Linked DNA regions of Homo sapiens. The protein of the gene in region 4 purifies or fractionates together with the protein of the main gene of each other region. This does not show direct contact. Each region holds a gene or a part of one and is shown on either strand. Other genes may lie near its edges.

Region 1 (6,316 bases), on a different chromosome or scaffold from region 4:
CTATTCTAGACATTTCATATCCATGAGTGCAGACAGTACATGACCTTCTATGTCTGGCTTCTCTCACCCGGCAGCATGTTTTCTGGGTCGTCCACGCGGTAGCGTGTGGCAGTGCCTCACTCCTCTTTGTGGCTGAACACTATTCCATTTTCTAGTGGTCTAGATGGACCACGTTTGGTTTCCCTGTTCATCTCCTGACGGGCATTTGGGTTGCTTCCAGCTTTTGGCGATTGTGAACAGCGCTTCTATGAACATGCATGTCTGAGTCCCTGTTTTTAATTCTTTTGGATATACAGGTAAAAGTGGAATTGCTGGGTCCTGCAGTCAATCTACGGTTAACATTCTGGAGAACCACCCTGGTCCAATCTTAAGGCATGCCGATACTTGCTGAATGAGTTGTGGCCTTTGGAGGTGCCGGCTCCGTGTTCTGGAGAAGGGTCCACAGATGTGGATTTTTAACACATGCCCAGGTGAGCACTGGAGCCAGGCAAGTTTGGGAAACACTGACTTACTGGCTGAGAAGTGTAGCATGAGAACCAGCCCGGCTCTCCTCCACTGTGGAGGGGAGTCTGGAAGGCAGCGGAAGTGTCATGCCTCAGGTCAGCAGGCATTCAGAGGGCAGCCCCTGGGTCTCATGACTGATCTTCCCACCCTCTTAGTGTAAAATAGTAACAAAGACAGTCCCCTTCCCCAGCTCTCCTGGCTACTCACTGGGTGTCTCTAACCCTTCGGGCTTCTGAGCTCCACCAGCGCTTGGCATCTGGGCCGGAGGAGGGGTCTCTGGAGGCCTCTGCTCTTCCCCGTCCCAAACGTCCCACAGAGCCGAATTCAGAAAGCTCGGCCTGCTATTCCCCAGGGAGCCCGCGCCCGAGGACTTCTCTTGCAATTTCCTCTGGGTAGTGCAGCTTCCTCGGATGGGGGTGGTGTCCAGGAGTCCCGGGGAGCGACAGTCACGGCTGTCGGCGGCCTCGTTCATCCTGCGGCTGGGGCTGCTGGTGCTCAGGGGGCCGGTCCGCTCCAGGTTCCAGTGGTCAATGGGAATTGGCGAGAGGGGCTCCATGTGCCAGCAGCAGTCGTCAATTGGAATTGGGGGGTCACTGTCCAGTGGGGGGCTTCTGTTGGCCTGATGGGAGGCCACCTCCTGCTCATCGTCACTGTCTCCGACTTCCACCACTTCACCCGCTGGGGTCTGGTTCAGGAAGCTTGGCCCAGGCGGCGAGTGTTTCAGGAACCGCCTGCTGAAGTGGGCGCGGTCCCCTGAGATGGGATGTGGAGCCAGCGGAGAGGAGTGCGGGTGGCCCCCGGGGTGGGGACGGGAAGGGCTTCTGTGGCCTTGCCTTCTGCCGTCAGAAGTTCCTGGAGAGACGGGAGTGAGGCATGAGGACGGTGTCTGGGGCGGTGGTGTCTGGGGCCTGATGACAGAAAACTTCTGTGCGACTTCGTTCCCTTCCCTGTTTCCTACTGAGGCCCTGGGCGTGTGCTGAGTCACCGCCTGCACGGCCAGCCCGCTCCTGAGGCTGCTGATTTGGGTCTGGGAAGAACAGTCACGGCTTCTGCTGGCCAGCGGGGTGGCGGGCACCAGCCACGAGGTGTCTGTGGTGCTGGCCTCGCTGGGGCTGCTCTCACGGTCACAGAACAGCCAGGGAGCCCCTCTCCTGCCCAAAGAGCCCCGATTCTCCGGCAGCGCCCCCTCATCCTCCTGCTGCAGCACAGCTTCGCTTCTTGGTGGGCTCTGGGAAGGTTCCTGATCTGCATCAACATCAATGATGGAAAACAGCTCACAGGACCTAGGGCTAATTTCTAGAGCTTTCTTTTCTTCCAGAGGATCACTAGAAATGGACTTCATTTTGGTTTGTTCTAGCTCCAGCTCCTCATCCGAGTCCAGTAAGAGGATGACCTCATCTTCTTCGTTCAGTTTGGATGAAGATTTCTGAGATCTGGAGCTCGAATGGTCAGGATTTGACTGGGTTAGGTCAATAGACGGAGATTTTTCTGGGAACATCAGGACCCCCTTATTTCTGCACTCCAGCACGGACCGACGCTCTTTGCCTTTCTGGTGCCCTGGCTCTTTAGACAGCGTGAGGATGCTCCTGTCCCTTTTCTGCTTTGATGGCACAGCTGGAGACAGCAAGGTTGGGGAGCCCACCTGGGAAGTTCCGCCACGGGACCGGGGTGTTGACAGGGACGACCCACTTGTGTGATGAGACCCGCGGGGACTCCCGCCCTGGGGAGGCCCCAATAGGAAGCGGCACGGGTGCGGTGGAGATGCCTGCCAGGGAGCCAGGCGATGAGAAACCTCCAGCCCCCTTTCCCTGACAGCGCCACTTTGTTCCTCGGGCTCACTTGTTATTTGGGACGGCTCTGAGATCTCTCCCTGAGTTGATGAGAAGAGCTGTTCGTAATCCCCGGCATCATCTGAGTGCGGAAGAGAGCCTTCTTTTCTCTCTGCCTGGCAGTCCCTGGAAGGGCTGGAGCAGCTGGAATGGCCAAGCGCCTCCTCTGGCGCCTCCTGCTCAGGGGCCTCTGCTCCCCGTGCCCCTGAGTGCTGGCCCTGGGGTGGCGGGAGAGCGCACTGTCCCATCTTCTCCCAGGTGGTGGCGGCCTCATCTCTTCCTGGCTCCAACGGCTCCATCTCCTCCACCTTGTCCCACTGTTTCTGCACCTGGACACCTGCTAGGAGTTGCCCAGAAACCGGACTGCCACCCTCCAGCCAGTCAGCGTCCTCGCCGGCACCCGCTGCCCTTTCTTCCTGGAGAAGCTTTCGCTGAGTAGCTGCAAATTCATAAATTTCTTCCATTTCTGCTTCATTCACGTTTTCTTGATCTTCTTCGTGGTCCTTGGATTTCAACAAAGTCTCCGCTTCCTCCTCTTCATCTGCCCACATTGACCTCAAGAGTTCCTGGAAATTCTCGGCCCTGCTTTCGCAATTCTCTGCTTCCTTCTCCTCCCATGGTTTGCCCTCTGAGTCAGTGGCAATAGGCACCTGTTCGCACAGGTGAACGAGCTCACTCACGCCAAACCTGCAACACGAAACATCGACAGTCATCGCCCCTCTGCGTGGAGATGGGCTCTGGGTGCCCCGGTGGGGTGGCGGACCAGAGCAGAGTCTTCACCAGGAGGAATGACCATGACCCAGGCCCTGCTTCCCTTTGAAGACGGTGTCCACACTCCTTGCCAGAAACACCCAGGCCACTTAGTTCCAGAAACCGGGGACTGACAACACTTAAAGCAGGGCTTCCTAACTATAGCTGCAGACATAAAGGGGTGTGTCGGACTGAATGTAAGGTAACAGGGATTGGCAGAGCTACAAAACTGGGGAGTCTGTGCTGCCTCAGAGGCTCTTAAGATATGGTGTCAGAGCCAGGCATTGTGGCTCATGCCTGAAATTCCAGCACTTTGGGAAGCCGAGGATCACTCAAGGCCGGGAGTTTGAGATCAGCCTGGACAACATAGAAAGTCTCCATCTCTACAAAAAAATGTAAAAATTAGCCTAGGAGTTCAAGGCTACAGTGAGCTGTGATCATGCCACTGCCATCCAGCCTGGGCAACAGCAAGAGACTCTGTCTCTAAAAGGATAAAAAAGGTCATGCATGGTGGCTCATGCCCATAATCCCAGCACTTTGGGAGGCGGAGGCAGGAGGATTGCTTGAGGTCAGGAGTTCAAGAACAGCCTGGGCAACACAGCGACACTCCGTCTCTCCAAAAAATAAAAAATAAATGAAAAGACATGGCATCAGACACAATCCACAGCACACCAAGTCCTTGAGTCAGCCCAGGCCAACGGGCAAGCCAGCCAGCCACCTGCTTGAAGGCTCTGTGGCCCGTCAGTATATTTCCAACTCCAGAGGCTGAGCTGTTCCTTTCCTAAGAAAGCAGCGGAGGGAGGACGCAGGCTCGGATCAGCGGCCCAGGCCCTGTCCAGAGGCACAACACTTGTCCCTCTGAGCTGCTGCCTCTCTCCTAAGATGCTGGCTGGACAAGCCAGGAGAGCTGTGGCATCTGGGATGCAGCCTAAGCATTCTCTCCATGCCTGTTTTATGGGACTCTGGAAAGGACTGCTGTTGTTCAGGTCTAGTGGTGGAACAATCACTGAGCAGCAGTGTTGGGGGGCGCTGTAGCCAAGGGCCATTCTCTTATCACACCTAGGGGGTTAAAAACCACGGGACTCAATAGAGTCCTCCTGATCCAGTGCTTGGCACCCCTGCAAGGGTCTGTTCTGGCCTGACTTTCACCTAACATGCCCTGTTCCACAGGGTCATCACTGGTCATGGACTTGGGATTAAAAGGTATAAACAGGACTGTTAGTTCTCTTGGCCTCAGCCCCGAGCCCTCTGCAGCACAACCCTCCAGAGCTGTTAACCTGCCAGTCCTCGTCAGTTAATTTCAAAAGCTGGGGAGCAATCCAGACCTGTGGGCCAGGGAGCTCAGCTCAGAGCTAAGGCCAGGAGGAAGGCCAGTGTCCGCAGTGTAGAGATAGTGCAGGAACGTGCGGGCGGCCTCGGTGCTCACGTCACCCAGCAGGACACGCTGGGTCAGAACCCCGTCCTCTACAGCGGAGAAGCCTTCATTGTTCACCTGCAGGTGAAATGCAACACAGAGGGTTTACTGATCAGAGAGTTGTAACTTGGAGCAAAGCAGACGGTCTGGGGTGTCCTGCAAGTCACTAGTCTTTTTATTTTTCTTTTTAGAGACAGTGTCTCCCCTTGTCACCCAGGCTAGAGTACAGTGGTGTGATCATGGCTTACTGCAGCCTTGAACTCCTAGGCTAATTTTAAATTTTAATTAATTTTATTATTTTGAGTTGGAATCTCTCTCTGTTGCCCAGGCTGGAGTGCAGTGGTGAGATCTCGGCTCACTGCAACCTCCACCTCCTCGGTTCCAGCGTATTCTCCTGCCTCAGCCTCCCGAGTAGCTGGGATTGCAGCCGCCCACCACCATGCCCGGCTAATTTTTTATAGTTTCAGTAGAGATAAGGTTTCACTATGTTGGCCAGGCTGGTCTTGGAACTCCTGACCTCAGGTGATCCACCCTCCTCGGCCTCCCAAAGTGCTGGGATTACTGGCGTGAGCCACTGCGCCCAGCCCCTAGGCTAATTTTTAAATTTTTTTGTAGAGATGGGCTCTCACTGTGTTGTTCAGGCTGGTCTTGAACTCCTGGCCTCAAGCGATCCTCCCACCTTAGTCTCCCAAAGTACGGGGATCTCAGGCATGAGCCGCCGTGCCTGGTCCCTAGTCTTAAAAGCAGCTCCATGCCCCAGGAAAAGCATTAGCCACTGTTTATGCAGATTTTTGGCCAATAATTTTACAGGTGAGGCCTAACACTCCTCTTTTGTCAAATCGTATTGGGACTAGATATTCCAGGACCCCGTTAAGAGTCCTCCTGATAGACACATATGGGATCCAGAACTTTGACAAAGACTGAGAATAGCTCCCTGAGTTCCTGCCCACACTCAAGTCAAATGCTTTCAAGTCAGAAGGCAGGTTCATCAGCAACTCATCCCTGAGGAGATCAATTATGAGCCTTTGTAATTATGCAAATAGAGAAAAGAGAAAACAATTCTGGGAAACAATGGATTTTCTTTTTGTTTTGTTTTGTTTTTGAGACAGAGTCTTGCTCTGTCGCCCAGGCTGGAGTGCAGTGGTGCAATCTCAGCTCATTGGAAGCTCCGCCTCCCAGGTTCATGCCATTCTCCTGCCTCAGCCTCCCGAGTAGCTGGGACTACAGGCGCCCGCCACCATGCCCGGCTAATTTTTTTGTATTTTTAGTAGAGACTGGTTTCACTGTGTTAGGATGGTCTTGATCTCCTGACCTTGTGATCTGCCCGCCTCGGCCTCCCAAAGTGCTGGAATTACAGGCGTGAGCCACCGCGCCCGGCCAAACAATGGATTTTCATTCAACAGAACGAAAACACTGATGTTTCCCAGTTGTGAGGCCATCCCCTCACACCCACTCCTAACCTCAAGCGTGGGTCTTTATCTCTTCTCCACGTGTTGCAGAAACGGATGGTTGGGAGGGAGAAGGTGAGAACATGGTGGGGCAGGAAGTGAGGGAGAGTGGGGGGGTGGAAAGGGCACCTGAGACATGGGAAGACCTGGTTGGAGAAAGGCAGGAGGAGAGAGGGAGAGAGAGGAAAGGAGGGCACACGGCAGCCCACGTACTTACATACTGGATGAGGAGCGGGCATCGGGCATAAAGCACGAACTTGTGGGCGTAAAGCACCTCCCCGCTGTCCGTCTGAAACTGGACATCACTCAGGTGTGGGTTATTGACCATGGCGCCAAAGTCAGCAACCAGCAGCCCGAGGGAGAGCTGAAGC
Region 2 (7,031 bases), on a different chromosome or scaffold from region 4:
AAAGCGGAAGCGGAAACCCGATTCAGCGTGGAAGGGGGTGGGAGGGGTGAGGTCGGTGGAGGGGGCGGGTTTTTGGGGGTGGGTTGAAAGCGGAAGCGCAACCCAATTCAGCATCCATGGGGGTGGGAGGGGTGAGGTTGGTGGAGGGGCCCCAGTTTTTGGGGTGGGAGATGGCGGTGTGAGAGAGGTGCGGGGTTGAGGATAGGAGTGCTGGTGGGGGATAGGGGCGCGGATGGGTTTGGGAGTGCAAATAGTAATGGGAAAGGGGAGGCGGTGGGGGATAGAAATAGGGGTGGGGTACGCTTGGCCCTCTCTTAGGGTCCTGAGGTTGATGCCTCGTAGAGCCTGCCCTCACTAGTCTTACACTAACCACCCCAAGCTCGGACTCCAGAGTCCCATGCGACTTCAGACGCAGTGGGGTGGAGGGCGCCCCAGACTCAGAAGTCCGCCCACGGGTGGCCCACGGCTGGTAGCAGGAGTGGTGCGGGATTATTTGGGGTCGTCTATCTGGGGTGGGGGCCTCCTGAGTCCTCCCTCAGCGTCTCACCTTGACTCCTCACAGGGCCTGGCCCGCTTCCCTCCGCCAATCCCAAGCTGCTGGTCAGACAGAGCAGCTCGCTTCTCTCTAACCCCCAATGCGCAAGTCAGTGGCATCACATCCGGGCCCCTGGGGCTTTCTTGGGTTGAAAGAGGAAGCGGAAATCAGATTCAGCGTGGATGGGGGTGGGAGGGGTGAGGTCGATGGAGGGGGCGGGTTTTTGGGGGTGGGTTGAAAGCGGAAGCGGAACGTGATTCAGTGTGGATGGGGGTGGGAGGGGTGAGGTTGGTACAAGGGCCCGGGTTGTTGGGGTGGGAGATGGCGATATGAGAGAGGTGGGGGGTTGAAGAGGAGAGGAGTGCTGGTGGGGGATGGGGCGTGGATGGTTTGGGAGTGCAAATGGTAATGGGAAAGGGGACGTGGTGGGGGATGGGAATAGGGGTGGGGTACGCTTAGCCCTCTCTTAGGGTCCTGAGATTGATGCCCGGCAGAGCCTGGCCTCACTAGTCTTACACTAAACACCCCAAGCTCTGACTCCAGAGTCCCCTGCGACTTCAGAGGCAGTGGGGTGGTGGGCGCCCCAAGCTCAGAAGTCCGCCCACAGGTGGCCCACGGCAGGTAGGAGTGGTGCAGGATTATTTGGGGTCGTCTATCTGGGGTGGTGGCCTCCTGAGTCCTCCTCAGCGTCTCACCTTGACTCCTCACAGGGCCTGGCCTGCTTCCTTCCACCAATCCCAAGCTGCTGGTCAGACAGCAGCTCGCTTCTCTCTAACCCCCAATGCGCAAGTCAGTGGCATCACATCCGGGCCCCTGAGGCTTTCTTGGGTTGAAAGCGGAAGCGGAAACACGATTCAGCGTGGATGGGGGTGGGGGGGAGGTCGGTGGAGGGGGCGGGTTTTTGGGAGTGGGTTGAAAGCGGAAGCGGAACCCGATTCAGCGTGGATGGGGGTGGGAGGGGTGAGGTTGGTGGAGGGGCCCCGGTTTTTGGGGTGGCAGATGGCGGTATGACAGAGGTGGGGGGTCGAGGAGGAGTGCTGGTGGGGGATGGGGGCGCGGATGGGTTTAGGAGTGCAAATGGTAATGGGAAAGGGGACGTGATGGGGGATGGGAATAGGGGTGGGGTACGCTTAGCCCTCTCTTACGGTCCTGAGATTGATGCCTGGCAGAGCCTGGCCTCACTAGTCTTACACTAAACACCCTAAGCTCTGACTCCAGAGTCCTCTGCGACTTCAGAGGCAGTGGGGTGGTGGGCGCCCCAGACTCAGAAGTCCGCCCACAGGTGGCCCACGGCTGGTAGCAGGAGTGGTGCGGGATTATTTGGGGTCGTCTATCTGGGGTGGGGGCCTCCTGAGTCCTCCCTCAGCATCTCACCTTGACTCCTCACAGGGCCTGGCCCGCTTCCCTCCGCCAATCCCAAGCGGCTGGTCAGAGCAGCTCGCTTCTCTCTAACCCCCAATGCGCAAGTCAGTGGCATCACATCCGGGCACCTGGGACTTTCTTGGGTTGAAAGCGGAAGCGGAAACCCGATTCAGCGTGGAAGGGGGTGGGAGGGGTGAGGTCGGTGGAGGGGGCGGGTTTTTGGGGGTGGGTTGAAAGCGGAAGCGCAACCCAATTCAGCATCCATGGGGGTGGGAGGGGTGAGGTTGGTGGAGGGGCCCCAGTTTTTGGGGTGGGAGATGGCGGTGTGAGAGAGGTGCGGGGTTGAGGATAGGAGTGCTGGTGGGGGATAGGGGCGCGGATGGGTTTGGGAGTGCAAATAGTAATGGGAAAGGGGAGGCGGTGGGGGATAGAAATAGGGGTGGGGTACGCTTGGCCCTCTCTTAGGGTCCTGAGGTTGATGCCTCGTAGAGCCTGCCCTCACTAGTCTTACACTAACCACCCCAAGCTCGGACTCCAGAGTCCCATGCGACTTCAGACGCAGTGGGGTGGAGGGCGCCCCAGACTCAGAAGTCCGCCCACGGGTGGCCCACGGCTGGTAGCAGGAGTGGTGCGGGATTATTTGGGGTCGTCTATCTGGGGTGGGGGCCTCCTGAGTCCTCCCTCAGCGTCTCACCTTGACTCCTCACAGGGCCTGGCCCGCTTCCCTCCGCCAATCCCAAGCTGCTGGTCAGACAGAGCAGCTCGCTTCTCTCTAACCCCCAATGCGCAAGTCAGTGGCATCACATCCGGGCCCCTGGGGCTTTCTTGGGTTGAAAGAGGAAGCGGAAATCAGATTCAGCGTGGATGGGGGTGGGAGGGGTGAGGTCGATGGAGGGGGCGGGTTTTTGGGGGTGGGTTGAAAGCGGAAGCGGAACGTGATTCAGTGTGGATGGGGGTGGGAGGGGTGAGGTTGGTAGAAGGGCCCGGGTTGTTGGGGTGGGAGATGGCGGTATGAGAGAGGTGGGGGGTTGAAGAGGAGAGGAGTGCTGGTGGGGGATGGGGGCGTGGATGGTTTGGGAGTGCAAATGGTAATCGGAAAGGGGACGTGGTGGGGGATGGGAATAGGGGTGGGGTACGCTTAGCCCTCTCTTAGGGTGCTGAGGTCCATGCCTGGCAGAGCCTGCCCTCACTAGTCTTACACTAATCAACCCAAGCTCTGACTCCAGAGTCCCCTGCAACTTCAGAGGCAGTGGGGTGGTGGGCGCCCCAGACTCAGAAGTCCGCCCACGGGTGGCCCACGGCTGGTAGCAGGAGTGGTGCGGGATTATTTGGGGTCATCTATCTGGGGTGGGGGCCTCCTGAGTCCTCCCTCAGCGTCTCACCTTGACTCCTCACAGGGCCTGGCCCGCTTCCCTCCGCCAATCCCAAGCTGCTGGTCAGACAGAGCAGCTCGCTTCTCTCTAACCCCCAATGCGCAAGTCAGTGGCATCACATCCGGGCCCCTGGGGCTTTCTTGGGTTGAAAGAGGGAGCGCAACCCGATTCAGCGTGGATGGGGGTGGGAGGGGTGAGGTCGGTGGAGGGGGCGGGTTTTTGGGGGTGGGAGATGGCGGTATGAAGGTGGTGGGGTGTTTGGGAGGATGGGGAGCTGGTGGAGGATGGGAGTGTAGATGGGTTTGTGAGTGCGAATGGGAATGGGAAGGGGTTAGGGGATGGGAATGGGGTTGCGGGATGGGAATAGCGGTGTGGTACGCTCAGCTGGCTTTTAGGGTCCTGAGGTTGATGCCTGGCAGAGCCTGCCCCCACCAGTCTTGCACTGATCACCCCAAGCTCTGACTTCAGAATCCCCTGAGGCTTAAGTGGCAGTGGGGTGGTGGCCCCCCCACCACAGACTGAGAAGTCTCCAGGAGTGGCCCAGGGCTGGCAGCAGGGGTGGTGTTGGATTTTTTGTGGTCGTCTATGTGGGGTGGGGGTCCTCCTGAGTCCTCCCTCAGCATCTCACCTTGTCTCCTTATAGAGCCTGGGCGGGCTTCCCTCCGCCAGTCTCAAGCTGCGAGTCAGACGCAGAAGCTCGCTTGTCTCTAACCCCCAGTGCGCAAGTCAGTGGCATCACATCCGGGCAGCTGGGGCTTTCCTTGGTTGAAAGCGGGGGCGGAACCGGGGATCCTGCCTGGATGGGGGTATGGGTGTTGGGGGGTGGGGGTGCAGGTGTGGGGTGGGGGATGAGGGTGCGGGGGTTGAATTGGGGATGGGGGTATGAGGGTGGCACGGGGTTGGGGAGGATGGGGTGCTGGTAGGGGATGAGGGTGTGGATTGGGTTAGGAGTGTGGAAGGGAATGGGAATGGGGTGGGGGATAGGAATGGGGGTGGGGAACCCTCAGCTCTCTCTTAGGGTCCTGACTTTGACGCCTGGCACAGCCTGCCCCCACCTTGCCTCCTCACAGAGCCTGCGCCTGCTTCCCTCCGTGGATCTCGAGTTGCTGGTCAGACCAATGCGCAAGTCAGGGATGTCACATCCGGGCCACCTGGGTTGACAGCAGGGGTGGAACCGGATTCGGCCAGGGTGGGAGTTGGGGTGGGGGAGGAGGCGAGAGGTCCTGGGGTTAGGGGTTGAGGTAGGCGTGCCCCTCAGTCCTTTGATTCCTGGCATAGCCTGGACCCCTGTTCTCTGCGGATGGTGTCTGCTCCCCTCAGACCAAGGTTCTGACTCCTAGTCCCCTGAGGTCACAGTGGGGGGAGAGGTGTCCTTGGGCGACAAAGCCGCTGGGGTCTTCCAGGGCTGACAGGAGGGACTAAGCTGGATTCTGTGGCCCCTCTTTGAGCGGGGGTTTACCCTCAGTCTTCACTCAGGAGGGTCCTCTTCCTGGGTCCTGGCTCTTTGTTGAAGTGATGGGTTGGAGATGCTCTTTTTCTCTCACCTCTGAGCATTTGCCCAGCTGTACCCCTTGCAGAAAATGGCTGCGGGTACCAGGCGAGGTGTTCCCTGGGTGGCTGCAGCACCCGTTATTGTAGTGACCTCTGTGAGAAGATGCACGCCTTCCCACGGGGGCTCCTCCCCAGCCAGAGCTGGACTTTGGAAACCTTTTTTCCTCAAAGAAATATATTTTACATATCTTCCAAGGATATATATAGGTAGCAACATATATATTTATTTCTATGAAAGAATACCTACCCTTAGTTTGCATGATTCACTCTGATACCCTATTCAACTTCTATTCCATTGTTTATGTTCTGTTAAAATAATTCTTTTCGAGACCAGCCTGGCCAACAGGGTGAAACACTGTCTTCACTAAATATAGAAAAAAAATTAAAAAATTAGCTGGGCGTGGTGGTGGGCGCCTATAATCCCAGCTACTTGGGAGGCTGAGGCAGGAGAATCGCTTGAACCTGGTAGGCGGAGGTTGCAGTGAGCCAAGATCGAGTCATTGCACTCCAGCCCGGGCGACAGTCTCAATAATAATAATAATAATAATATTAATAATAATAATAATAATAATGCTAATCCTCATCCACTAAGTTGGTTTCAGGTTGTAATTAGCAGATCTCCGGAACCATACTGCCTTAACCAACCCAATTTTCCTGCTGTCCTGCTATTACCCTAGGGTTACTGGAATCGTGTTTTGAGGTGCTGCCTCAGATTGTGCAGTGCAGTGAGGTGGAGATTTTAAAATGTTCATCCTATTCATTCTGTCATCTGACGTCTAGGCAGGCTATAGACTTCAACATCCCTGCAGCCAACCCCCCTCCAACTGACACCGCCCCAAACATAAGTACCAGTTCAACACAGTCCTCAGTCTCACCCAGGACTTTCTGTGTTTTGTTGCTTAGATTTTATTGCTTATATTGTTGTTTTTTCTTTCTTTCTTTTTCTCTTCTATAATTTTCCAGAGTTGATTTGGGAACCAGAGAACAGCAGCCTAAGTGTGACTGTAATTTTTGGCAGCTACAGGTAAGACACTAAATTGTAAATCATTTAAGCAGAATTGACATTTTTACAATGTTCTGCTCCTGATCAATGAATAGGTTATGCTCCTTTACTTATTTCAAACTCCTTTTACCTGAATCTGTCAGTATACTTTGATAGTTTCCTCTAGAAAGACCTTACACATTTTTCTTAGGCTTCTTTTTTGGTAATTCTTGGATTTTGTTGCTATTGCAAATGGCATATTTTCTATTAATTGTTCTAATTAATGGAAATTAATTAACTCTAATAGTTATTGCTATTGTGTGGCAGAGAATTTGATTTTGCTATAGTAATCTGTTGTACACCTCATTCTGAAAACCCATTGACTTGAATATTCCACATGCCTTTTTCTTTGAATTTTCAAGAATGATAAGGGTATTATCACTAAACATTATGTATTTTTCCTATATTCATGCCCCTTATTTATTATGATACTTATAGCTCTGACTTTGTGTCTCAATGATGATTTAAAACGTAGAGATAATAGCCTACATCTACTTCGTGTTCCTGCCTTTAATGATAATTCTTTGAACTTCTTAAATTTGTTTGCTGTTGATTTTAGGAAATGTATGTTCTCTTTCAATATAGGTTAACTAAATATTTTTACCATGAACTCATATTGAATTTCTTCCAAAAGCTTTTCCTGTACCCATTGATGTGATAAATTTTTTCTCCTCTATTTTGTGTGTAAAAAATTACAATGAAACTTTTTTTTCTAATGTTAAATCATATTTTCTTTCCTTGGGTAGAGCTTGTTTGTTCATTTAATATTCTACTAATTTACATAAGATATTTGCTGCTATGTAAGAGAGCTTGTTTATGTGTTTTTTCCATCGGGAGTGGGGGGTGGTCCTCATCTGATTTTTGAATCCAGAAGGGTTAATCTGGGAGAATGAATTGAAGAATTGTCTATATTTTGCGTGCTTTGAAGAGTTGAGATAAGATGATGGTTAGTTTTCCTTGATCATTTGGTGGAATCAGCCTCCGAAACCGACTAACCTGGGACGTTTGAGGATGGCTTGAGCTTTGAATATTGTATAGTTTCAGTTTGTGTCGTTTAATTGAAGTTTTCTTTTTGGATCAATTTGGTCATTTGTTTATTTTATTTCTACAAAATAGTTGGATCATTTAGGATTTCATTTTTAATGGCATGATATTTATGACAAAAAAC
Region 3 (6,316 bases), on a different chromosome or scaffold from region 4:
AAGGCCAAGAGTTGAAGACTAACTTGAGCAACACAGCAAGACTCCATCTCTAAAAAAAAAAAAAAAAAAAAGTTTTTAATTAAAAAAAACCAATGAGTTGCCGCACACTTCACTAAAGATAAAATTTTAAATCTTAATATACAGATGAAAAAAAGAATGGAAAACTCAGTATTACCGAAGATACAAGGCTGAACATGGTGGCTCATGTTTGTAATCCTAGCACTTTAGGAGGCTGAGGCGGGCAGATCACGTGAGGTCCGGAGTTCGAGACCAGCCTGGCCAACATGATGAAACCCCATCTCTACTAAAAACACAAAAAAAGCTGGACGCCGTGGCTCACACCTGTAATCCCAGCACTTTGGGAGGCCGAGGCAGGCAGATCACCTGAGGTCAGGAGTTCAAGACCAGCCCGGCCAACATGGTGAAACCCTGTCTCTACTAAAAATACAAAAATTACCTGGGCGTGGTCTCGTGCATCTGTAATTCCAGCTACTTGGGAGGCTGAGGCAGGAGAATCACTTGAACCCGGGAAGCAGAGGTTGCAGTGAGCCAAGACTGCACCACTGCACTCCGGCCTGGGGGACACAGCAAGACTCCATCTCAAAAATAAAAATAAGAACAAATACAAAAAAATTAGCCAGGCATGGTGACGCACACCTGTAATCCTAGCTACTCAGGAGACTGAAATGGGAGGACTGTTTGAACCCAGGAGGCAGAGGTTGCAGTGAGCCGAAATCGCATGACTGCACACACTCCAGCCTGGGTGAGAAAGAGTGAGACTCCATCTCAGGAAAAAAAAAAAAAAAAAGAAGATACATATAGTAAAGTTTACATTATGACCACCAATGAATCGCACCTCTTGATCTGTCCTTGTGTAATCACCTCCCCCACTGACTTTGGGCTTGACCATATGACTTGTTTTGGCCAAAGAAACATAAGCAAACAGGATGCAAGCTGAGGTCTGGTAAGAGCTTTCATACTAGGGCATGTTGTCATGAGGAGGCTGCTATTGTTAAGTGAGCGATGAGGCAGAGGGATGGGATAGACACACCAGATGAACCTAAGTGAAGGAAAACACACGAATGAGTCCAGGTAAGAAGAGCTGCCCAGCCAATCCGTAGCACATCTGCAGTCTCAGCTACTCAGGAAGCTGAGGTGGGAGGATCACTTGAGCCCAGGAGTTCGAGGTTGCAGTAAGCTATGATTGTACCACTGCACTCCAGCCCGGGTAACAGCTTTACTAGGCTTTGAGATGCTTTGTTAAACAGCAGTAATATCGGATACGATATATGTATATGCACTATGAAGAGTTAATATCCTCATTATTATAAATCATTAGAAGAAAAACTACACATCTCATTGGGAAAACAGAAAAAGCACATGAACAGACATCCACACAAAAATAAAGCTGTCCAATAAACAAACAAAGAGACCCTACAGGTAATCAAAGAAATACAAATTAAACCAATGAGGTAACACCTTTTACCTATCACATTGGCAAAGATTAAAAGACCGATAATGGCCTGAGCTGGCCAGAATGTGGGGTAACTAGAAATCTCATCTACTCTTGCTTATCTGGTAACGTGTATCAAAAACTGATACAACTCCCTTTAGTCATTTTGTTTATTATTCACTCAAATACTTATGCATACTCACAGAGGCCTGTGCTGGGAACTTGGAATGCAGAGCCAGGTCACGCAAGACCTTAATAATTTTGGTTTTATGACAAATTTGGGTTTTAGTCTAAGATGCCGCTGAAGGCTTTACATGGGAAATAACAATATCTGATTTCCACTTTAAGAGTATTCTGAGTGATGCATGAAGAACAGGGGACATGAATGGAAATGAGGAAACACTAATAGTTCAGGTAAGAGATAACAGTGGCCTGGACTTGAGGCAGTGAGATGGACAGAAGCAAGTGAAGGTGACCTGGTAGGACAATGATAGACTGGATACAGAAAGGTAAAGAAACAAAAAATAAAAAAAAAAACAAAACACAGCACTACTTCTTGATTTTACTTCTAGGAATGTATCCTAAAACAGTATCAGATATGTACACAAAGACATATAACCAAAGATGTTCACAGCAGTGTTTTTTATAATAACAAAAATAATGGAACAAATCTAAAAGTCCATCTTTAAGATTTAAGTAGACAAAGTCATCCATCCAAAGCAATGGAATATTATGCAGTCACTTAAAGTTATGTAGCTATATAGTTAGGAACAAGAATTACTGGCTGGACACAGCAGCTCATGCCTGTAATCCGAGTGCTTTGGGAGGCTGAAGTGGGAGGATGACTTGAGGCCAGGAGTTCAAGACCAGCCTGGGCAACATAGCGAGACCTTGTCTCTGCACAAAAATCTTAACAATTAGAGGGTGTGGTGGCGCACATCTGTAGTCTCAGCTACTCAGGAGGCTGAGATGGGAGGATCGCTTGAGCCCAGGAGTTCGAGGCTGCAGTAAGCTATGATTGCACCACTGCACTCCAGCCTGGGTGACAGTTTAAGACCCTATTTAAAAAATAAAAATAATAAAATGTAAAAAGTATAGATATTATATATATGGAAAGGGACAAGCTACAAAATACACAATACAAATATAGTATAATTCCATTTTTAAATAGTATAATCTTACTTTTATATATAATCATATGCACACGCACAATGATCTGCAATGCTGCAAATGCACTACAAAAAGTTTAGAAATCTACACATTAAAATATTAAAATACTAGATGGCTTGGATTTAACATTTCATAAATAAATGTTTTATACTTTCCATACCTTCTAAAATCTGTTCAAAATCTGTACTACTTTACAATGGAAGGAAAAAAGTAATTTAAAAAAATACTGACCAGACATATGGACAACAGTAATTGATTTATTTTTCTAAAAATAATTCTAAAAAAATTGTGCAAAGACCACAATTAAGTAGACTGTAAGTAAAAGTTTTAAATGAAAACTTAAGATACATAAATCTTAAATTGTTAAAAACTGAACGGTCACAATTTTGCTTGCAATATCAGTCTAACATGAGAATTTGGGGGAGGAGGAGAAAGACTGCAGAACAAAGCAGATATTCAAATAACCAGTATATAATAATTATTAAGACTGCATAAAAAGATCCCTTCACTGAACTGTAAAAGGAGCAATTTGGACTCCCTTGAGATTTGACCTCAAGAGCTATTCATTTTATTTTACTTAAGTTCTTGGTTCTTCATAAAGCTCCCCCGCTGCCAAGTTGCAAATGTAACAGATACCAAAAAGGACAGAAGACTGAGGACCTCTAAGGCACAGTTAAAGGTAGTCATTTTGATTTCACATCATCAGATGTATTCTTACCAAGACCAGATGTTCTATAAGGCCTTTACCACTGGAAAAGGGCTCAGTTTATTTAAAAATATCATGATTACCTCATTCCCCAAAGACAAAACTTTTGGTATTTGAGACTACTGTAAACAAACCCCAGAAAATCACCACCCAGATTTAAGTTTTCTGAAGATTCTGATGGATTTGCTTCATCACATTTTACTGGTGACTTTAGTCATCCTTACTTACAACAGGCCTACCAAAGAGATGGCTGGCTGTCTCCTTAGCACGAAGATACAGCTCCAAAATTTGTTCAGGCCTTTCAAAGCCACCACTACCAAGGTTTCCACCTCAGCATTCCCACGTGCTTGTTTCCCTACAGAGAAATGTCCAGTGGTTCTATCTTCAATCTCTCTTCTTTAAATAGCACGAAGATGTCAATTCAAAATATTAATCCAAAGTAATAAAAATGTCAGAAACAACTCACGTAAAAAGCAAATGAGATCTTCTGGTGTTATTATATAGATCTGTCTATTCTGGGCATTTCATATAAATGGAATCATGGCATATATCGCCTTTTGTGTCTGGCTTATTTCACTTAGCATAATGCTTCCATCTACGCTGTGGCATGTATCAGAATTCCATTCCTTTTGATGGCCAAATATTATTCTGTTGTATGGACATACCACATTTTGATGATCTATTCATGAAATCAGACACACCTGGGTTATTTCTGCTTTTTGGCTGTTATGAATAACGATACTATAGACATTTGTGTACAAGTTTTTCTGTGGACAAATGTTTTCATTTCTAGGAAAGGAATTGCTGGGTCATACGATAACTCTATGTTTAACTTTTGAGGAACTGCCAAACTGTTTTCTAAAGCAGCTGCACCATCTTACATGGTTTTTCACATTCTTAACATAAACTTAAGAGATGTCAGACTTTCATAAAAGTGGGGGATTTACTCTTATCAAGCTCATTTTGTGTGCCAAGTGTTATGCCAGAATTTTATTTAATTTTCTCAACAGCTCTATAATTCACAAAGTATATTCGATCCCAAAAAATGTTTATAACCCACTCAAAAATAAATTATTTAGTAAATGTCAAACTAGAGTCAAACCCAGAGTTAACTTCAAAGCCTGTCCTCTTTACCCTACACCATTCAATCTCTACACTTAGATATACATACATTGCCTCATACCCAAAGTAGTCTTTGGAAAAGTTGCCTGTTAATAAAACTTACTTTAATCATTGTAAAATAGAAGGTTCCCAGTGTAAAGAGATTTCTAGAAAATTTAACGGATATCTTGTATAAATCAATCAACCCCCCTAATTTATCTTCTTTAGTAAACAACTTCTGGTTACTTAAAACAAAACTTATCTAAAGTTCACCTAAATATTAAACAAATTATTTTCTTCCAAAGTTGTATGCACTGACAAAAAAAAAAAATGTAGTTATCTTCTGCTATAGACTGAACTGTGTTCCCCTAAAATTTATATGTTAATACCCTAACCCTCAATGTGACTCTATTTGGAAAAAGGGCTTTTAGGAGGTAACTAATGTTAAATTAAGTTATAAGCACAGGGCCCTAATTCAATAGGATTAATGGCCTTATGAAATGAGGAGGAGAGAGAAATCCCCCCTCATCTCCCCGACCCCAGGATTCCCATACCCACCCTACCATGTGAGGACACAGAGAGAAGGATATCTTCTGCAAGCCAGGAAGAGAACCCTCACCAAAACCCATCCATACTGGCAACCTGATCTCTGACTTCCAGCCTCCAGAACCTTAAAATAAATGTCTAGGCCGGGCGCTGTGGCTCCCACCTGTAATCCCACGAGGTCAGGAGATCAAGACCATCCTGGCTAACACAGTGAAACCCCATCTCAACTAAAAAATACAAAAAAATTAGCCAGGCGTGGTGGCAGGCGCCTGTGGTCCCACCTGCTCAGGAGGCTGAGGCAGGAGAATGGTGTGAACCCGGGAGGCAGAGCTTGCAGTAACCTGAGATCGAGCCGCTGCAATCCAGCCTGGGCGACACAGTGAGACTGTCTCAAAAAAATTAATAAATAAAAATAAAAAATAATTTTCTGTTGTTTAAGCCACCCAGTCTATGGTATTTTGTTATGGCAGCCCACACTAATACTTCAAGAGTATCATACACTACCCAGTGATTGGTATTTGAAGCACTGATAAGAATCAAAACAAAGCAGGGCTGGGGGCGGTGACTCACGCCTATAATCCCAGCACTTTGGGAGGCTGAGGTGGGCGCATCACGAGGTCAGGAGATCAAGACCATCCTGGCTAACATGTTGAAACCCCATCTCTACTAAAAATACAAAAAATTAGCTGGGCGTGGTGGCACGCGCCTGTAGTCTCAGCTACTCGGGAGGCTGAGGCTAGAGAATTGCTTGAACCCAGGAGGCGGAAGCTGCAGTGAGTGGAGATCATGCCACTGCACTCCAGCCTGGGCAAGAGTGAGACTCCATCTCAAAAAACAAAAACAAAAAAAGAATCAAAACAAAGCAAGCACTAAATGGGGTAAAAATAAATTAAACCAATAGAGATGCATATGCTTGTTACTTGAAAATATTTACAAGTTCTTTGGTCAAAGAGACTTAAAAACAGATTGATGGCCCTTTCAGTAATTCAGAATTTAATCATAAAGTCAAGTAAACATGGTATCCTCCAAAGGGCTTAGAATTTAGACAATCCTGACACTTGTAGCCACTTCCAAGCTCTGTGTTAGAATAAGAAATAAATTCTGGCCAGGTGAGTTCAAAACCTGCCTGGTCCACATAGCAAGACCACATCTCTACAAAATAAAAATTAAATTAAAATTTAAAAAAGAACAAAAGAAAACCAAATTCTACACCTATTCCTGGAGTCAGGATGTGAGTTTTTGCTTGCTTAATTAAATTATGTTATTAACATTTAGTATCCACCAAATACTACACTACACCCTACAATATCCAGTAGAGCTTCTAGAACACTACAGGTATT
Region 4 (6,316 bases):
TTATTGTGAGATAGGGTCTCACTCTGTCACCCAGGCTAAAGTGCAGTAGTGCCATCATAGCTCACTGCAGCCTTGAATTCTTGAGCTCAAGTGATCCTCCCACCTCAGCCTCCTCAGTAGCTAGGACTATAGGCATGTGCTACCATGCATAGCTATTTTTAATTTTTTAGTAGAGGCAGGGTCCCGCTATGTTGCCCAGGCTGGTTTTGAACTCCTAGCCTCAATTGATCCCCCTGCTTCAGCCTCCCTAAATGCTGGGATTACAGGAATAAGCCACCATGCCTGGTCCATGAGTGTGCTACTGTTTAGCTTTCTCAAACTCCATGAACTTACTTGTTGCACAAAGCATGTAAGTATATCATAAAAAAGAATAGTTCACTGAGTCAACCAGTTTAACAAAAATTTATTTCTGATGCTATATATAGTGTTATTTGGTTCTAAGGATATTAAAATCATTACTATGTAGATCAAATTGAAAAGAATGTTTTTTGTCAATCAATAGTTTTTGGAAATGACTAGTGCATATATACTGGGAAGTAAGCACATCTGGAATGTTGATTTAGCTATCTATTTGCAAAATAAAACAGTCTATTCTTTTGCTTTAACCAAAAGGACTATAATGTCATAAAAAGACCTCTGAAAATTTTCATTTCCAAGACTTCAAGAAATTAAAAATAATGATGGGTTTATTTTCAGAACAAAGAGATTTTTAAAAAATCCCGCTAATCTTTTCTTTAATAGTAAGGTCAAAGGAATTATTAATACTTTTAAAAATCTCAATAGTTTCTGATTCTTTTATAAGGTTTTGAGTTTCCAGCAGATTCACTTTTTAGTATTCTCCATTTGACCTTGGAGCTTCTGACTGAAGTTTTGCACAACCTAAGCAAAACAAGCAATAGGAAGTTTTTCAAGAGTTCTCAGAAAGAGATGGACTAAATTCTCTTTTCTAAATCAGGAATGAAAAGACATTTTGACCCATTCTAAATATCATGCCACTAGAGATGCTATCTTTAGGGAGAGAGAGAGGAAAAAAAAAACCTGATTATCAAATCCCTCTTAGTGATTAAAGATCAAATGGAACTTTTCACAAGAAGTGCTAGCCATGATGTCCTGATTCATTGATACTTCCCACACAGAAGTAGCTCATCATTTCAGCAGCAGGATGGGCACAATTCATTGTCTAAACAGAAACAGTACTGAGTTTGTATAGTTTAATATCTATAGCTAGCAGCTAAAGTTTTTTGCTTATGTGTACTGACTTTGTGGAAAGGCCATTGGTTATAATATTTCATTCTAATAGAAGAGAACATTTCATAATACATAATTTTTACTAGTTCTTCTTTGTTCTCATATTCTGAACTTGAAACTATCCTAAAGCCAATTTATTGTTTCCCTGTTATAAGAATGTGGATCCACTGGTATGATCTATAATCTACAACATTCTATTTACAACACAGAACATATGTCAGAAATACCTTTATCTTATGGGCCCTCTCCCCACTCCCTCCATTTTTATTTTTAATACCTCATTCCCTGTTGACATGACTGCAACCACTGGAAACTTATTAACTTCAACCTCTGTGACACCTACAGTTGCCAGAAGACCAATCTCTGAGGGGCCCATGTGGGTTCCTTTGGCCAAAACACATTCCCCTCTTTTAATGTCATGGCCGATGGGTCTGAAAGTCAAAGCAGAACCATAAGCAGTGTGATTAGAGAACAACATTTTCTCAACTCAGAGGGAAACTTTAGTGTCAAAAAAGGACATTCAAGAAGACAAAAAAGTCTAGAAATAAAGTAGTAGGAAAACAATGAATTGAAGGGATTCTAAAAATCCTATGCTTTTTTAATTTTAAAAGTTAAATCACACAACAGAAAACAGAAATAGGATTTGAATGTATTACTGCTAAAGAAAAACATGTTACTTCATATTTGAAATTTTTTTTCATGAGTACCTGTGAATAAAATTACTTTACAAATTGTTTTATGTTACATTATAGTAAAAATACCAATTGTAAACTTTCTTTGATAAGGCAAGAATTTGTATGGCAATATCTAGCGGCATTAATGATAAGAGGTCCACAGCTGGCTAGCTTTGTCAAGGAGAATAATGCTAATGAGGCTACAGTCATAGAGGTAATTTCCATATGGACCACTTAGGTTGGTCCTGATCTGTGGCTACTGAGGTACATTAACCTTGGTGTGCTGCCATAGGGATGGGAGAAGTGTAGCTTCGTTACAAAGGGATGTTCAGCAAATTAGTATTAATGGAATCAGGGTAAACATATTCCATTTTAAGAAAAATAATTTAAGGTATATGCACTATTTATCATAGCAAATAGCCTCATCTTTGTATATAACAAGGAACAGATTATTCCATTATTATTGGTAGTCACTAGAGCATATGCTATTAGTTAATTGTGTAAATACCCAATTCTGGTATTATCTGAGTTGATACCAAATTCCAGATTATTTAGGGATGGGATTGGGTAATTCTGGATTATCTAGAAGTAGAATTAACTGTAGAATATGTAGGCTCATGACTTTACCTCTTTCTCATCTTGCTTTTGACTAACTCGCCTTTACCATCTTCATTAAAAAGTAGGCAGGGCAGATATGTGATACAGAATTCATAACATTCATTTTGCTTTTTGTTAAAGCCCTGAAAATTAATGGCTAACTGACATGGCTGCAGATTTATAGTAGCCAGGGTTTCCTGAGTAAATGATCATGTAGAAACAAAAGTAGGCTATATATTCTATGTGTTTTGAAGTTACCTGATATCTTGGCCTGGCCGAGCTTGCACCAGAATTCGCACTTCAAGTTCTTCAGTGCCCTATAATAACAGCCGGTCATGTAATTTCAAACAGAATTTCTGAGCAGTAGAATTTAGTTACTCCGATACTTTTACCATCAGATAGGCCCAGGATATATACAAATATAGACAAAAAGAAAACTATTTGCTACACCCTTTGAAAACACTGAATTTCTAACACAGGTTCCTGAAAAATTAGAAGGTTTGGTGCCAATAAATAAAAAATTTTTTTCTCCAATTTTTATGCTTTTAAAAAATGTACCAATTCAAATATTAAATCTTGTTTATAAGATTTAATATTTGAACTAATACATTATATAGAATTTGTTTATATATTTTTATATACATATGTAGGTGGCTACCCTAATAAAGTGAACGTGTGTGGAGGTAATATCTTCCTTCTTTTCCCATGAATCATGGGTTCAATACCATGCCAAGGTTACCAAATACTTGCAGAAATTTCAGTAAAGGACTTATAGTTTGCCTGGTAGTAGATTTCTGTCCATTAATTGCAGTAATCAATTTTACATTTATGGGCTGTGAATAATATTGTGACATTGGAACTGTGTCTTGTCATCTGGCAGAGTCTGTGGATGTATGTGTTCTGGAATTCAGTGCTTTGCTGGCTTCCCTGATGCCAATAAATCTGCTTAGGCAGTTTTAACAGCAGGCAATGTGATCTGTTTGCCAAGGGTTGAATTTTATAAGCCTTACATATGGAAAGGTGATTAAAAAGAAAATCTCCAGATCAGGGAAAGTGTCTGTCTCTTGGCATGGCCAATTTTACTATCTACTCGGCTTGGGAGAATATATGTTTATTTTTCACCTCAGCTTTAAAATATATCTTTACTTTCTTCATAAAACAAGTAAGAGAGCTGATTATTAAAACCTCAGTTGAATCTATTCTACTTTTATTACTGGCTTATACTCTGGTTTCAATAACCTGCCACTATTTTCAGTGAGATAAAGGCTTGCTTAGGTCCAAAAAGATTCCAGCATCTTTTACTTGAGGCAATGGAGGGAGAACTGACATACACTTAATATTTCCAGGCTGTCATTTGGTGGCACAGCTTTTTCCAGACTTACAGAAAACCAGAGGTGAAAGGGTCATTTGGTTCAAATGCTTGGCTTAGTGTAATATTCAAGAACTTGCCCAAGTGCTCTTTGTTAAATTCTTCTCTAGTAAATTCTGATTTCATGAACTCCTTGACATTTTATCAGAAGCTAGTCTCAATGGCAAATTTCTCAGCTGGAAGGTATGTCAACCATTAATATCTCTGCTCTGGAAGGTATGTCAACCATTAATATCTCTGCATTTCTTTCTTGAGGTACTTTCTTTCGTTGTTTGCATGTGAAACTGCTTGGGTCAAATATGATTCAAATTCTGCTATAACAGCAATGATCATAGAAACCCCTCCTGTAACAACAGATTTTCAAGATTAAGGAAATTTCTTATTTACTGGAGACTCATATACTACAATATAAGATCCCACCATAAGCAAAAACAAAACAAAACTAAACAACCCAAAAAACTGGGTTAATCTCACAAACACTGCAGAAAATGGTTGTGACATAATACTGCCATAGGAACAACAGCACAGTAAGACTTGGTGATGACGTACATCATCTGATTCCCTGATAAGTTCGGTATCTTCCACTTGTACTACTGCATCAGCACCGCAGGGTATTGGAGCACCTGTTGTAACCCGCATGACTTGTCCTGGCATTACTGTCTGAGTTGGCTGGAAATAAAGATGAAAAAGACAGTTGATGTACTTTGCTGCTGCAAAGGAAAAGTCTGCAGAGGATGTTAATTTTTTTAATATTAAAAAATAAACCATAAAAGAAAGTCTTACAGTCTTATTCATTTTGGGCCAGTGTAATAAAAGCTATCCACAAACAGGTGCACTCACACTAAAGGGGCTTTAGGTTCATTTAAGCTGATTTTATGTGTACTTTAAGGTAATGACTATTCGGTGTCTTGGTGCTCTGCTTTACTTTTGAAGAACTGCCATTTACATTTGCCACTTTTGCCTCTCAAATAATGTACATTTTCCTAATATATGTAAAGTGATTTGAGAGTCTGTAAGTAAAAAAATTGCTAGGACATACATTGTGAATAACAATTACAAAAAAAAATCTTCATAACTTATTGAAGTTCTAATGTTTGAGAAATGCAGTACTTTATTAACTAAACTTTTTGGTTAAATAAAGGCAAGCCAGAAATATTTTAATTATTGCCTTTGAAAATATTCTAAAACACATTAGCTCACCTATCAATTAATAATAGAGGTTGAGCAAATATAATTAAATCATTTAAAAATGATTCCAGTGTCTGTAATGACCTAGGTTAAACATTACTTTTGAAAATGAAAAACAAGATTTTCATTGTTTGTGCTCTCATATTGATGGTATAAGAGACAGAACCTTCCCTGCTAACTTCTTACAACATGAGGAAAAGCATTTTTCTGTAAGATTCATCTGATAGATTTGATCTGATAGAGAAGTGATCTGAAAGTCACTTGTCAGGGGCAATGATTTAGACTGGAGTTTGGAAAATGAATGCTTCAAATTCTCCCTAAGAAAAAATCCTGAGACAATATTAATCCCCCCTGCCAAAAGATTCCTTTCTAAAGATGTCTGCCTCATAAGTATAGTCACGTGCTGCATAAGGATAGTTTGCTCAATGTTGGACTGCATATATGATGGTGGTCCTATAAGATTACCATATTTTCTACTGTACTTTTTGTTTTGATAAACAAATACCATTATAATTGCTTACGTATTCAGTAATACTGTAATATGCTGTGCAGGTTTGTAGCCTCGGAGCTACAGGTCACACCATGTAGGCTAGGTGTGTAGTGGGCTACTCATGCAGGTTTGTGTAAGTACACTCTATGATGGTCGGACAACAAGAAAATTGCCCAACAACATATTTCTCAGAATATATCTTCATTAAGTAACTCATGACTCTATTTAAAATCTTAAGTCCCTACAATGTGAATATATTTACCACTACTGAACTATAAGCTTAAAAACTGTCAAGATGGTATATTTAATGTTATGTGTGTGTATGTTTTGTCATTGTTGTTATTTTAACCACCAAAATAAGACAAAGTAAAATAAACCACACACACACACACACACACACACACACACACACACACACCCCTTAGGGAATGGTTAAGAAAAAAAAATACCTTACTACTGAAAGTACAATCAAAGTAAAACAGGAAATTTATTACAAAAGTCTTAAAAATCTTCTCTCCATAATATTATTACTGTAAGCAATACTACCAATAACTAATATTTATTGAACCCACAATCTATGCTAGGTACAATGTTAAGTGCATTATATATTACAGAATATAAGCCTTACAAAGACAAAGATTTGTTTCATTTTCTGTTTGCCTCTCCAGATCACATCATCATTCTCTACTCTGTGCTGTGGTCCAGAAGCTGACCTCTATGGACTATTTTAACCAGTTTCCCACCACTTTG
Region 5 (5,516 bases), on a different chromosome or scaffold from region 4:
TCCTTGTCAAAGTGTCTGCAGCACAAAGCCGAGGGCGGCTCAGCAGGCAGCCCTGCTGCCGAACACCCCCCACCCAGCCAGGGCGAGTAAGGCTGAACTCACTTAAACATCATGCTGAATTCTTTGAGGGCCTCCTCAGTCACACCTGTTGTGTTCCTGGAAGAAAAACAGAAATTAGGGAACAGACCCTCCACACAGCAGGTGACTGTGTCTTTTCCTCCCCCTGCTCTGGGCTGAGCCTGGCCCACAGCCCTCCCGGGTACCTGGCCTGGATCTGCTGCTCCAGGTTGTGCTGCATGCGCATGCCCAGCTGGTCCAGCTGGTCCCACTGCTGGGCGAGGCCCACGGTGCTGTGCTCCGTGTACTTGTTGTCCAGGATGAGGGCCTCCTCCATGGCGGCCCCCAGGTCCTCGATCTTTTTGAGCTGACTTCTCATGGCTCGGATTTCCTGGTGCTTGCGCTGCAGGGGTGGGGAGCACAGATGCTCAGACGGGGGCCCTCAGCTCAGTCACCAGCCCAGGAGCCACTTACTGCCCTCTGGTTCCTGCTCCAGGCCTGGCCTGAGACCTCGTAAAACAAGAACATTCTAGAATAGGAATAGTGGGATGGGGTGAAGCTGAAGAAATCCCAACCACCTCAATAGAGGGAGAGACTTTCAATGTGAGGGTTCCAAAGCAGCTGGTAGACCTGCCAGAGGGCAGTGCACGCCAAGGACAAGTACGGCGAGGACTCCAGGAAGCAGTGGCCAAAGATTTTTATAAATTTTTTTGAGATGGAGTCTCACTGTCGCCTAGGCTAGAGTGCAGTGGCGCAATCACGCTCACTGCAACCTCCCGGGTTCAAGTGATTCTCCTGCCTCAATCTCCTGAGTAGCTGGAACTAACAGGTGCCCATCACCACACCTGCCTAATTTTTGTATTTTTAGTAGAGGCGATGTTTCACTGCATTGACCAGGCTGGTCTTGAATTCCTAGGCTCAAGTGATCTGCCTGTCTTGGCCTCCCAAAGTTCTGGGATTATAGGCATGAGCCACTGCACCCAGCCTTATTTTTAAGACAAGGTCTTGCTATATATTGCCCATGCTGGACTTTGAGCAGGTGTAGGCCACCATGCCCAAGTAATTTTTTTCAGAGGGAGTTTTGCTCTTGTCACCCAGGCTGGAGTGCAATGGCCTGATCTCGGGTCACTGCAACCTCCGCATCCCAGAATCAAGTGATTCTCCTGCCTCAGCCTCCTGAGTAGCTGGGATTACAGGTGCCTGCCACCACACCCAGCTAATATTTTGTATTTTTAGTAGAGATGGGGTTTCCCCATGTTGGCCAGGCTGGTCTCGAACTCCTGACTTCAAGCAATCCACCCGCCTCGGCTTCCCAAAGTGCTGGGATTACAGGTGTAAGTCACCACACCCAGCCCCAAAGACTTTCTTTAAAGTGAAGAGCCCTCGGCCGGGAGTGGTGGCTCATGCTTGTAATCCCAGCACTTTGGGAGGCTGAGGTGGACAGATCACTGGAGATCAGGAGTTCCAGACCGGCCTGGCCAACAAGGCAAAACACTGTCTCTACTAAAAATATAAAAACTAGGCCAGATGTGGTGGCTCACGCTTGTAATCCCAGCACTTTGGGAGGCCGAGGCGGGCAGATCAGCCGAGGTCAGGAGTTCGAGACCAGCCTGCCTGGCCAACATGGTGAAACCCTGTCTCTACTAAAAATACAAAAATTACCCAGGTGTGGTGGTGGGCGCCTGTAATCCCAGCTACTTGGGAGGTTGAGGCAGGAGGATCACTTGAACCCAGGAGGTGGAGGTTGCAGTGAGCCAAGACCACGTCCATTGCACTCCAGCCTGGGCAACAAGAGTGAAACTCCATCTCAAAAGATAATTAAAAATAAACAAAAATTAGCCAAATGTGGTGGCACACATCTGTAGTACAGCTATTTGGGAGGCTGAGGCAGGAGAATTGCTTGACCTGGGAGGTGGAGGTTGCAGTGAGCCAATATCGCACCACTGCACTCCAGCCTGGGCGAGAGAGAGATTCCATGAAGAAAGAAAGAAAAGAGAGAGAGATAGTGAAGAGCCCTAGACTGCTTTAGGCCAAGGGAAAAGGGTACAATAATAGCACATCTGGTTCCTGACTTTAAGCCAGGAAGGGAAGGGGTACCCTGGGGGGTGGCTGGGTGAAGGGTCTCTGCTGGGCCAGAGCCCCACGGGCACTTACTTTGGTAGCTTCAAGCTGGGATTCGAGGGTCCCCGACTCTTCCACCATACAGGACCTAAACGTGGAAGGACAGTGAGGAAAGGGGCCTGCTCCCAGCTGGCCGAGAGCTCAGAATGAACCTTCTCTCAGAGAGAGCAATGCCTGGCAACCTCACATTCCTTTTAAGGAAACCAAACCTAACTGCAACTGGCCATCTTTACCTAATGGGCCCCAGGGATCGAGGGATGGCAGGGAGCATTTCTCCCGTTTTAGAGATGGGAAGCTGCTGCCTTGGTGTGGGCCAGGGCTGAGCCCACTCGTCTTGCTCCCAAGGCCAGGATGACTCAGGAATGGAGTTTAAATTCCCCCATGGGTGCAGGGTGGCTGCAGGCCTGTCTGAGCATCCTCTCTGCAGCCATGTGGGGGATGGCACACCCTGACACCTGACAGACAGGAGACCTCAGGGCAGAGGGGAGGCTGAGAACCTGACAGCCTCCCCACAGAAACCCTGGAGTGTCCCGGCAAGGTTCCTGAGGGAGGGAGCCCCATTCTAGGGGGAATGAGAGCACGACCCTGCAGACAAAGGACACAAGTGGAGTGCTGGGAGATCACGACCAACTGTGCCAAAAGGAGAGAGATGGCTGTGACTAAACCCCAGATCCCGGTTCCATCCTCTAGACACAGCCAGGGAGGGAGCCTCCTCTCTAGGACCAAGTTCTGAGAGCAGATGGGCTCTGGGGAGCCTCCTTCCCAAGAGAACACAGTGCCAGGTCACAGAGGCTACCAGTAAACAAAGACAACAAACGAGTTAGGGTTACGTGCAGGGACGAATCACACGGTGCGTGTGGCCTTGGTGGGGTTTTAGCCCAGGCTCCCCTGTACCCACATTCACCCCAACCTACCCTTTTAAAACCCGGCGAGCCAGGGTTAGCTCTGCAATCTCCCCAGGTTCAAAGTGCTCTAGCAAGGCAAGGCACCAGGCTTCCTCCTACCCCAGCAGGTCAGACTCACAGTCACGCCATGTCCCCCCGGGGAAAATGCCCCCCAGGACCTGGGGGCAGGAGGCTGGGTGCCGGTGCAGTGGGAGGACAGACCCCTCCTTCCCAAGCAGCCGAGGGCGGCAGGTTAGTCAGGGTGGAGCCGCCTGGGGATGTCAAGAGTGCATCAGTAAAGCCACAGTGAGGTAAGAAGAGAAATAAGGAGAAAAACCTTCCAGACAGATCATCCCCAACTTCATACTGATAGACACGAATGACCCGACGATATGCTATGCTATTCAAAGAAAAGAAACCAAATGAATACACCAAAGGGAGGGGAGGCAAGAGCACACTGCAACAGACACACACAAAGCCCAAGCTGGCAGGGCGCAGGCAAGGGCAACCTGGTGCCCGGCGGGTACCTGGAGGCAGCAGGCCCAGTGGTTCACCCCAGGCAGCTCACACTAGGAATGGGCAAGATGGGCAGGGCTTGGGAGGAGCCATAAGGTGAGGGGAGCGTGGCACCTCACGGAGACAAGAGCAAGACCAGCAGACACAGGCATGGGGCAGGGAGGGGAGTCAGGTGGCCAGGGTGTCCTACGGGCACAGGCCGGAAACTGCGATCCCTACGTCCCCAGCTGCTCTGCCATCAGAATGTGTGGCCCGGCTGGATGGGTCTATTTCTCCCCTGGCCGCCTATACAGGCTTGATGTGCCTGGGTGCAGAGCCTCAGGAGTGCAGGCCAAGCCACTCCAGTCCCAGCAGCCCTGGCTTTCACAGCAGGCTTGGCAGATTACAAAGGTGACCCGGCCAGGCAGAGGCCCCAGGCCAAGCAGAGAAGTCCCTGCCGGGACTGGGCGGGACAGCCCAGCCCTGCTCCTCCCTGGGGCTCCTCCCACGTCCTGTCTATCACATAACGGGTGCATTTTTGCCTTCTATTAGGGCGGACAGTCTTGTTACCCTCCCTGACCCCAGGAAAGTAAAGTGGCAGCCTCAGCTACTTAGGGGGTGTCAGTGCCCAGCCCTTCTCAGCTGTGGACTTACTGTACCCTGCCTGAGCCCCCAGCACTGCCATCTGCTTCATGCCCACTGACCACTGTTGGACTCGCTGGGGAAGCAGAGGTGAGAGCCCAACAGAGCCCGGTGGCTGGACAGGCACGGGGGTTCTTAGGGCCTCTGGACTCCAGCTCTGGCCTTCGTGCTTCATCACCTTCCCTACCCAAAGTGAGCCCTTGGAATCGCCCAGTGAGGCAAGGACGGCTCCCCCTGGCTTGAAGGCTCTATCGGGGACCAGGGACCATGGGCTATGGGGCAAGGCACACACTCCTCATCAGGTGACGAGAAGGGTGGGAGGGGAAGTGCAGCCCGCCCTGGGCAGGAAGGCCCATCCCGGGATCCTCCACAAGCCAGGCCACGAGGGGCAAGCGCACGAGACCCCCACATGACAAGCCCAGAGAAGGAAGAAAACAATATTAACCCATCGAGGAGGTATGTCCTGTGGAGAGCAGATCCAAGCAGCCGGGAGACAAGGTGGTGTCCGGACAACAGCAGCAATCGGGGGGACAGAGAGAAGACACAAGAAAGAAAGGAAAACAAAAGCAAGAACATCAGTACCCAACGCACAGACCCTGCATCGTCTGTCACCAAGTCATGGCTGGGGCTGACCACGCGCCCTGCATGGTCCCACTCAATCCGGGATCTCTAACAACTTGATGTCTGGGACATGCAGCACTGAGAGGCTGCTCCACCTATGCCCCCACTCCCGGCTCCAGAGCCCGACCAGGCGTTGCCAGCCCAGCTTTATTCCCAGGCTGCCTCTGGTTTTACACAAAGCACCACCACCTCCTTGGGGCTGGAAGCTCCCCAGGGCTTAAGTACAGCAGGGACATGCTGCTGCTCCCCGGCCCCAGCGGGCTGGCACCTGGTCTCTTGGATCCACTGGTGGAAGGCGTTGGCGTGCTGGGCAAACTCCTGGCGCAGCTTGTCGTTCTCCTCCTGCCGCCGCTGTTCCTTCTGCAGCTCCAGCTCCCTCTCCTGAGGGCCAAAGGGGGGCAGATGCTGTGCGCTGCTGTGGCAGTGACACCAGCCCCTCCTTCACAGATGGGCTCAGGGTGGTGGTGGCCTCCCCACAAGGAACCTCCCCAAAGATGAGAGGAGGAGGCTGGGAGACATGAGGCCGGCTCAGAGCACTTGGTAGTTCTTTCTCTGTTCCCACCCCCCAGGGGCTTCAAGGAAGAGGCGGACCTGGAGGGAAGCGACTGGTCAGTCAAGCAGGGAGTTGCTGGACTGTCAGAAATGGAAACTTCTGGCTGGGTACAGTGGCTCACACCTGTAATCCCAGCACTTTGG

Evidence for each region.
Region 1: the proteins of GPHN (region 4) and SLX4 purify together in Homo sapiens (co-immunoprecipitation; one large-scale study listed by IntAct). This does not show direct contact.
Region 2: the proteins of GPHN (region 4) and MAGEA4 purify together in Homo sapiens (co-immunoprecipitation; one large-scale study listed by IntAct). This does not show direct contact.
Region 3: the proteins of GPHN (region 4) and ENAH purify together in Homo sapiens (affinity purification with western blotting, with the first as the bait; one study listed by BioGRID). This does not show direct contact.
Region 5: the proteins of GPHN (region 4) and SPTAN1 fractionate together in Homo sapiens (co-fractionation; one large-scale study listed by BioGRID). This does not show direct contact.

What each region holds. Positions count from the first base shown.
Region 1 is NC_000016.10:3,588,291-3,594,606, forward strand, and holds part of SLX4 (structure-specific endonuclease subunit SLX4), read right to left. Parts: intron 6,310-6,316; coding exon 6,163-6,309; intron 4,576-6,162; coding exon 4,409-4,575; intron 3,021-4,408; coding exon 712-3,020; exon of another isoform or gene 1-711. UniProt on the Homo sapiens protein: Regulatory subunit that interacts with and increases the activity of different structure-specific endonucleases.
Region 2 is NC_000023.11:151,909,837-151,916,867, reverse strand, and holds the start of MAGEA4 (melanoma-associated antigen 4), read right to left. Parts: upstream 3,980-7,031; 5' UTR 3,899-3,979; intron 1,359-3,898; exon of another isoform or gene 1,231-1,358; intron 632-1,230; exon of another isoform or gene 548-631; intron 1-547. UniProt on the Homo sapiens protein: Regulates cell proliferation through the inhibition of cell cycle arrest at the G1 phase. Also negatively regulates p53-mediated apoptosis.
Region 3 is NC_000001.11:225,641,419-225,647,734, forward strand, and holds part of ENAH (protein enabled homolog), read right to left. Parts: intron 1-6,316. UniProt on the Homo sapiens protein: Ena/VASP proteins are actin-associated proteins involved in a range of processes dependent on cytoskeleton remodeling and cell polarity such as axon guidance and lamellipodial and filopodial dynamics in migrating cells.
Region 4 is NC_000014.9:67,108,381-67,114,696, reverse strand, and holds part of GPHN (gephyrin), read right to left. Parts: exon of another isoform or gene 6,235-6,316; intron 4,558-6,234; coding exon 4,438-4,557; intron 2,837-4,437; coding exon 2,778-2,836; intron 1,680-2,777; coding exon 1,526-1,679; intron 1-1,525. UniProt on the Homo sapiens protein: Microtubule-associated protein involved in membrane protein-cytoskeleton interactions. It is thought to anchor the inhibitory glycine receptor (GLYR) to subsynaptic microtubules.
Region 5 is NC_000009.12:128,627,071-128,632,586, reverse strand, and holds part of SPTAN1 (spectrin alpha chain, non-erythrocytic 1), read right to left. Parts: coding exon of another isoform or gene 5,497-5,516; intron 5,202-5,496; coding exon 5,089-5,201; intron 4,663-5,088; coding exon 4,645-4,662; intron 3,463-4,644; coding exon of another isoform or gene 3,400-3,462; intron 2,267-3,399; coding exon 2,212-2,266; intron 461-2,211; coding exon 264-460; intron 157-263; coding exon 103-156; intron 16-102; coding exon 1-15. UniProt on the Homo sapiens protein: Fodrin, which seems to be involved in secretion, interacts with calmodulin in a calcium-dependent manner and is thus candidate for the calcium-dependent movement of the cytoskeleton at the membrane.